Linked DNA regions of Homo sapiens. The protein of the gene in region 2 interacts with the protein of the main gene of each other region in a biochemical or structural test. Each region holds a gene or a part of one and is shown on either strand. Other genes may lie near its edges. The genes, in order: UBE3A and NUMBL.

The links.
Region 1: the proteins of NUMBL (region 2) and UBE3A form a complex in vitro, tested with the Homo sapiens proteins (one large-scale study listed by BioGRID).

What each region holds. Positions count from the first base shown.
Region 1 is NC_000015.10:25,365,785-25,369,608, forward strand, and holds part of UBE3A (ubiquitin-protein ligase E3A), read right to left. Parts: intron 1-3,824. UniProt on the Homo sapiens protein: E3 ubiquitin-protein ligase which accepts ubiquitin from an E2 ubiquitin-conjugating enzyme in the form of a thioester and transfers it to its substrates.
Region 2 is NC_000019.10:40,666,652-40,670,475, reverse strand, and holds part of NUMBL (numb-like protein), read left to right. Parts: intron 1-455; coding exon 456-578; intron 579-2,337; coding exon 2,338-3,008; 3' UTR 3,009-3,824. UniProt on the Homo sapiens protein: Plays a role in the process of neurogenesis. Required throughout embryonic neurogenesis to maintain neural progenitor cells, also called radial glial cells (RGCs), by allowing their daughter cells to choose progenitor over neuronal cell fate.

The DNA.
Region 1 (3,824 bases), on a different chromosome or scaffold from region 2:
CTAGCTTCAACTACTTCAGTCAACTTGAGGCTTAAACTATTGCTTGAGATTTCCAGATTATCCAAATTAATTTTTTCATGTTCACGATAAACACATGAAGAAAAGTCTGTTATATCTCAAATGTAGTTTAAATGTTTGGGTAACACCAAATCACATAATCACGTTCGTCCATGAGACCTGGAATCCTGACTTCTATTTCCAATTCTGCCATTAATTTATGTAGGCTGGAATCTCTTTTAGATTTCATTTTCCTCACATGTAATACTAAGTTTGATGTTTCATTGTCTTAAATTATTATATAATGCTGAGGATCTATGTATATATAGGCTTCATTCTCTCATTCAGTTTCTGAGAAATTACTTTGAGGGCATAAACCAAGCATATTTCTTGGTTTCATTTTTGATTTCAATTAGAATAAATCACAAGAAAGAACAATGGAAATTACATGTTAACCACAATATAGTGTATGTGTAAGACAAAATTAAACATACCTAGTGCAGCACAGAATAATCTCATTTTTAAAGCTCTGTGAGTCAATGAATAAATAAAAGAATTACGTTCATGTTTCACTAGTAAGAGTGTTCACCAATGCTGGAAGCTGGGAGCTGAAAATGCTGGAAGCTGGGTTAGACTAGGCTATTAGAAACCAGATAAAAAGGGCCAGTGACTTTTAGAGGGGATTTTGCAGAACCTCCTGGTAGTGGGGCTTTTTATCTGTGCCAATCACCTTTATCTGTGCTAATTCCTATTTTTGAACTTCCCTATTCAATTCCACATCTCAGCCATTCCTTTTGGTTTTTAGATATTTATGTGAAATGCTAGAACTCCCTGACTAATTGGAACCAAGTTTCACATCATCATCATCCTCTATTCCAAGCTTGCTGTCCCCATGATCCTCTTAAAAATCTGAGTTTCCAAAACACATAAACATACTTGTATATCAAAATGGCCTTTCTCTTTCTCTCTATATATGCACACATACACACATAAACACACATGCACACACACCCCCACCTGAGCTGAACCAAAGGCCATCTTCCCAAATATTGGAGTCTGGCTTTATCAAAATATTTGTGGAGTATTACCAGAAGTTCAGATTCATAGGCTCTACAATACAGCTTCTAATCTAAACCTCTAGAGGTTAGGGCCCTGGATTTTATTTATTTATTTATTTATTTTTTTTAAACAATTTTCCCATTCAGATGTGAAGGCAGTTTGAGGGACCTCATGATGGCAATACTATATTCTTCCATAAACTTATAACCTCTATCTTCTCCTTTAAGAAGTAATTTAAAAAATCTTAATACATACTATCATTGGAAGTGCTTCATCTAAGAAAAATGAGAAATTATCTACTTGTAAAAGAACACACAAATGGGTATATTTACATATTTGTAAATATGTAAATATTTACATATTTGTAAATATGTAAATATTTACATATTTGTAAATATGTAAATATTTGCATATTTGTAAATATGTAAATATTTACATATTTAAATTAAATTAATTTACATATTAAATTAAATTACATATTTATATTAAAAATGTAAATTTGTAAATATGGTTTTACATATTTGTAAAAACCTCATCACATTAGGAATGTCATTCAAATGAAAGGTGAAGTCTAAGCTCATGTTTATCACTGTACTGTTTTCTAAGGAACAATAACGAAAAAATACTGAAAATAAGTCCTAGGGGAACTATGGCAGTAAGTTAAACGGGTAGGGTGGGGGTGTTCTTAAGCAGTTCTAAGGTATTTGTGAAGAGACAACTTATATTCTATTGATTCTAAAATTCACTTTTTTCACATTATCTCTGAAATCAGATTACACCATACAAATGATAGCATCTTACAATGAATTGCTGGTATTTTTCTGTCTTAGCAGTAATAAAATGATAGTGTTTCCTACAATCAGAGATTAGTGAAAATACTATCAACATGAATTCTTCTCTTGTCATCAAAGACAATTTCTCTAAAAACCTCAGGAAAAAAGCTGCTAGTCTGGTTTGAATTTCACAATATATAAAAGCAATGAATATATTTTTCTTTTTTAAAAAAATCCACAATTATTAATTCAAGTTACCACTCCTCAACAGAAAACATACAAGAGTCTCATATATGAAGTCACTATTTTCTGGGCTTGATTTCTAAACTAAGGAGTGGATAACTCTAAGGTTTCTTTTAGCTCTTAAAGCCTAGGATCCCATAATTTTATTTATCAATATTAAGCTTACCACAAAGTTTCTCATTTCTTCTTTTCCACCCAACCCTGCTATACAATTCCAAAATTAGCAAGTCATAAAAAAGTGGCCACTAGTTTGTTCACTGTGATATATAAGAATGAGGCTTAAAAAGCAGAGATCCTTGGGAAATAAGATCTTGAAAAATTCATCACTTTTGAGCTTTCATATGAGAGAATAATCTTAAACCACTTTCTATTATAGAACTTCTACTATGTGTTACTAAAATATGTGGCTTTATCATAATCATCACCTGCTGTGAATACTTACTTCAAAAAATTACACAGGTTATCAATTTTACTTATAAGACCTATTTCGATGCTGGTTTTTCTAGTCTTTTCACATTCTGTTATTTTTTTAAAAAAAAGAAAAGGAAGAAAAAGCAAGGGAGAAAGAAAGTTAAGAGTAAAATCTGCTTAGTGTGAGCATTCAGAGCCCCTAAGGAAGCTTCTCTGTAAGCATCATCTCTTTCTATTTTCACAGTTTATTAAACTGCCTAACACACATGATTTCTGAAGTGAACTGCTTTTGTGGGCTGGCAATATTCAAGTACATATACTATCTAGTGAATCCTGATTTATGATAGGCCACACTATATTATCTAATTTTGATATAATTAAGCAGAACTTGCTAAAAACAAGTTACCATAATTAAAGAGCTCACAGTTAATTTTACACTAACACCTAAGGCTTTAAAAGCAGTTGTTTCCTTAAAATTCTAGAATAGAATTTAAAATATAGAATAAAGTATATACCAAGTACTTAAACTTTTGTTTTTAGTCTTGCTTTACTAGAGAAAAAAATGGGGGACTGAGGAAAATAAGACTGAGTAGACTTCTGAGCGAAAGACAGATAAGGAAGGTAGACAATTTTTTGAACCCTGGAATGATTCTTACAGTGTAATTTCATTGCCTTTTAAAGGCTAGACATAGCTTTTGATGAAGACAGCTGAAGGGATCTCACCTCAAGAAGCCAAACATAAAGTATGTAGCTTTGGCATTTGCAGTTCTGCTCCAACAATGGATAGTCATAGACAGACCTCAACATACCTTTCATAAAACATCACTCACATTCTTATAAAATACCCTATCATTCTGCTAAACTATGTAAAGTAAGGTGCTGGCTGCCTTATGATCAGTCATTAAGTGTATTAATTATTCATGTGTCTCAAAACTATGTAAGTGAAATAAAAAGGGTACCAGAAAGCAAGCAATAATAATGACTTCAGGCAGTTAAAGCCCCCTTTTGTCTCTGCTAGAAAACCACCTGAGTTGCTTAAATAATGCAGAATCTTTCTCCAACACTATAAACATATCTGACATTAAAAAAAAAAAACAAACCAGTAACAAAAAAAAAAAAAACACACAAAATCTCTGCAATTTTTAATTTCTGAGATGTCAAATAACTTTTTCCACCGGGCTACAGCTTTATGAATTCTCGAATTTAGACAATTCTAAAACTAAAATTTAGACATTCTAAAACTAAAATACATTTTAAAGTAAAAATCACATTTCCTAGTTGTCTGTGTCAGACAACTTTACTAGTATACTATAGTATTATTAACTACCTTAATTTTTGTTG
Region 2 (3,824 bases):
TGCCATAGATCAGCCTGGGTGGGGTGGACAGGACCCCACTTCTCTGCCCAAAGCTGGACAAATGATCCCCAGCCAGTGAGCGGCCATGCCACAGCCCATTCAGACTGGGCCCATGTCCTTGCCATGCACGTGGTTGGGCATATTTTTAAACTAATATATGTTGCTAAGTGTTTTAGACAACTCTTCTGGTTTGTGGCCACACACAAATCTTGAGGTCCTTGGTTTGGGGTCCCTGTTACTGTCAGCCGTCAAATGTCACACACTAACTCAGTCGTTCTGCCGCTCAGATGTGACACACACATATGCACAGTTATTTGGCGGTCATGGCCACTTAGTTACTACAGTGGGAAAGGATCCAGGTCAGAAGAGAGGGCCACCGAGGGCGGGGGGTAGAGGGCGGGGCTGCGGCAGGGTCTGGGCCTGTTTGCTGACCTCTGTCCTGCCCTGCTTCCCAGTGCCTGAGATGGAGCCTCCTGGTGCCGGCGACAGTGACAGCATCAACGCTCTGTGCACACAGATCAGTTCATCTTTTGCCAGTGCTGGAGCGCCAGCACCAGGGCCACCACCTGCCACAACAGGTAAAGCCAGGCTTTCTGCTGGGCAGACACCCTGCATGTCCCTCCTGTATCCCCTCCTCTATCCAGGGCTACCCAGACACTCCAGGGGTCTTGGGATCCTACAGGCTTAGAACCATGGATCACCTCAGAGCCAGGGGATCATCCTACAACCATGGATCATCTTAGAGCCATGGGATTACCTGAGAATCATGCGATTACTTTAGAACCATGGATCATCTTAGAGCCAGGGGATCATCCTAGATCCATGGATCATCTTAGAGCCACGGGATTACCTGAGAATCATGCAATCACCTTAAAAGCAGGGATCATCTTAGAGCCAGGGGATCAGCCTAGAACCATGGGATTATCTGAGAATCGTGTGATCATCTTAGAGCCATGGATCATCTTAGAGCCAGGGGATCATCCTAGATCCGTGGTTCATCTTAGAGCCATGGGATTACCTAAGAATCATGTGATCACCTTAGACCCAGGGATCATCTTAGAGCCAGGGGATTATCCTAGAACCATGGATCATCTTAGAGCCATGGAATTATCTGAGAATCATGTGATCACCTTAGAGCCATGGATCATCTCAGAGCCCTTGATCATTTTAGAGCCACGGGATCCCCTTAGAACCATGGGATCATCCTAGAACTATGGATCATCTTAGAGCCATAGGATCACCTTAGAAACACAGATCATCTTAGAACCAGAGGATCATCCTAGAACCAAGGATCATCTTAGAGCCGTGGGATTACCTGAGAATCAAGTGATCACTTTAGAACCATGAATTATCTTAGAGATACGGGATCATTGTAGAGCCACGGGGTCACCTCAGAGGCATGTGCTCATGCTAGAATCTTGGGATCACCTTAGAGCCCAGAGATCGTTTCAGAACCATGGAATCCTTGAGAACCATGTATCATCTTAGAGCCATGGGCTTATCCTAGAACCACAGGTGCACCTTAGAATCTCAAACACTGTAAATGTAGAACTCGAGAATCTTAGAAAGCCCAACCCTAAACTGTCAAACCTTACTATGTTAGGATACTATTATACATGTGGAGAAAGATCCATGCAATCTTAGAATCTTAACTCCTAAAACAATACATTCTGAAGGTATTAGAAAATCAAGGGTGATATTCAAAATAGTGAATACCAGCTGGGTGTGGTGGCTCATGCCTGTAATCCTAGTACTTTGGGAAGCCGAGGCAGGGGGATTACTTGAGGTAGGAGTTCGAGTCCAGCCTGGGCAACATGTTGAAACCTCGCCTCTACTAAAAATACAAAAAATCAGCCGGGCGTAATGGTGCGCGCCTGTAATCCCAGCTACTCAGGAGACTGAGGCACGAGAATTGCTTGAACCTGGGAGGCAGAGGTTGCAGTGAGCCCAGATAGGGCATCCCTGGGCAACAGAGTGAGACTCTCAAAACGAACAGACAACAAACAAAACAAAATAGTGAATCCTAGGCTTGGCACTGACCAGTCAGAAGGGTAGTGGGGCTAGGAGGATGTCAGTCCTACTTAGACTTTCTCATCATAGGGCCTTAGAAGCTCAGAATTGTATGTTCTTAGCACTCCAGAACCATTACGTGGTCCAGAATGGTGAAGTCACTCGCCTGAAGTCAGCAAGCTCGGGAGGTGCAGAGCTGGGATTCAGAGGCAGGCGGTCTGGCTCCAGAGTCCGTGCTCTGATCCCCACACCATGCCAGTTCCCAGCCTGGGGTTCTTCTGCTGAAGCCGTTGCCCCCTCCCTCACCTGTCCCTCTCCTCTCTCCAGGGACTTCTGCCTGGGGTGAGCCCTCCGTGCCCCCTGCAGCTGCCTTCCAGCCTGGGCACAAGCGGACACCTTCAGAGGCTGAGCGATGGCTGGAGGAGGTGTCACAGGTGGCCAAGGCCCAGCAGCAGCAGCAGCAGCAACAGCAACAGCAGCAGCAGCAGCAGCAGCAACAGCAGCAAGCAGCCTCAGTGGCCCCAGTGCCCACCATGCCTCCTGCCCTGCAGCCTTTCCCCGCCCCCGTGGGGCCCTTTGACGCTGCACCTGCCCAAGTGGCCGTGTTCCTGCCACCCCCACACATGCAGCCCCCTTTTGTGCCCGCCTACCCGGGCTTGGGCTACCCACCGATGCCCCGGGTGCCCGTGGTGGGCATCACACCCTCACAGATGGTGGCAAACGCCTTCTGCTCAGCCGCCCAGCTCCAGCCTCAGCCTGCCACTCTGCTTGGGAAAGCTGGGGCCTTCCCGCCCCCTGCCATACCCAGTGCCCCTGGGAGCCAGGCCCGCCCTCGCCCCAATGGGGCCCCCTGGCCCCCTGAGCCAGCGCCTGCCCCAGCTCCAGAGTTGGACCCCTTTGAGGCCCAGTGGGCGGCATTAGAAGGCAAAGCCACTGTAGAGAAACCCTCCAACCCCTTTTCTGGCGACCTGCAAAAGACATTCGAGATTGAACTGTAGCCCGAGCCGCCCCACCCACTCCATCATCTCCAGGTGCCCCACGCCTGGGGGTGGAGGCACAACCTCTCCCCTAACCCTGCTCCCTGGGGCTGCGCCCCTCAACACCCTCTCAACACCCCCCTCCCTCAACCACCCCGACAACCACTACAGAACCAACATTGTGACGCCCAGGTTGCAACAGGATGGAATTCAGGGACGGACCCAGCCTGGCTAAGGGAACCATTTCACTGCCGGACTTAGGCTGGCAATGCCCCCTTCCCCAACCCCAGACACAGGGGTTGGCCACAATCCCACTGAATGCCCTTGGTTCACACTCCATTTCCCAGTTTCTGTTGACCCCCACCTTCCAGTGTTGGACAGGATGGAGGGGGGACACTTGCTTAGGGGCTCTCCTGGGCCCCACACCAGTGCCCACCCCAAATCTGGTCGTCTCCTCCCCCCATGCACAGCACAAGCTAAGGGCTGCCCTCTGCCCACACGCTGCGTTCACTGCCAATGCTGTACTCACCTCCATCACCCTCCAACTTTGGGGCCCATGTCTTCCTTGGGCCAAGGTCTCATGGGGGCTAGGGCCAAGTTGGGGGCCCAGGAGGCGGGGAGGGAGGAGGAGGAGAAGATGCGCAGTTACCTCATGTCGGTGCCCGCTGGGGAGGGGTCCGGGAAGAAGGGGAAGGGGTGCCTGGCGGGTACTTTTCTATCTTTTATTTCCAGATTTTTTTTGTATCTAAACTTGAAGATTTGTATTATACAAGGACAGCCAATAAAGGAAGAATATAATGGTGCCCCTCGGGAAACGAGGGTGTGTGTAGGGCGCTG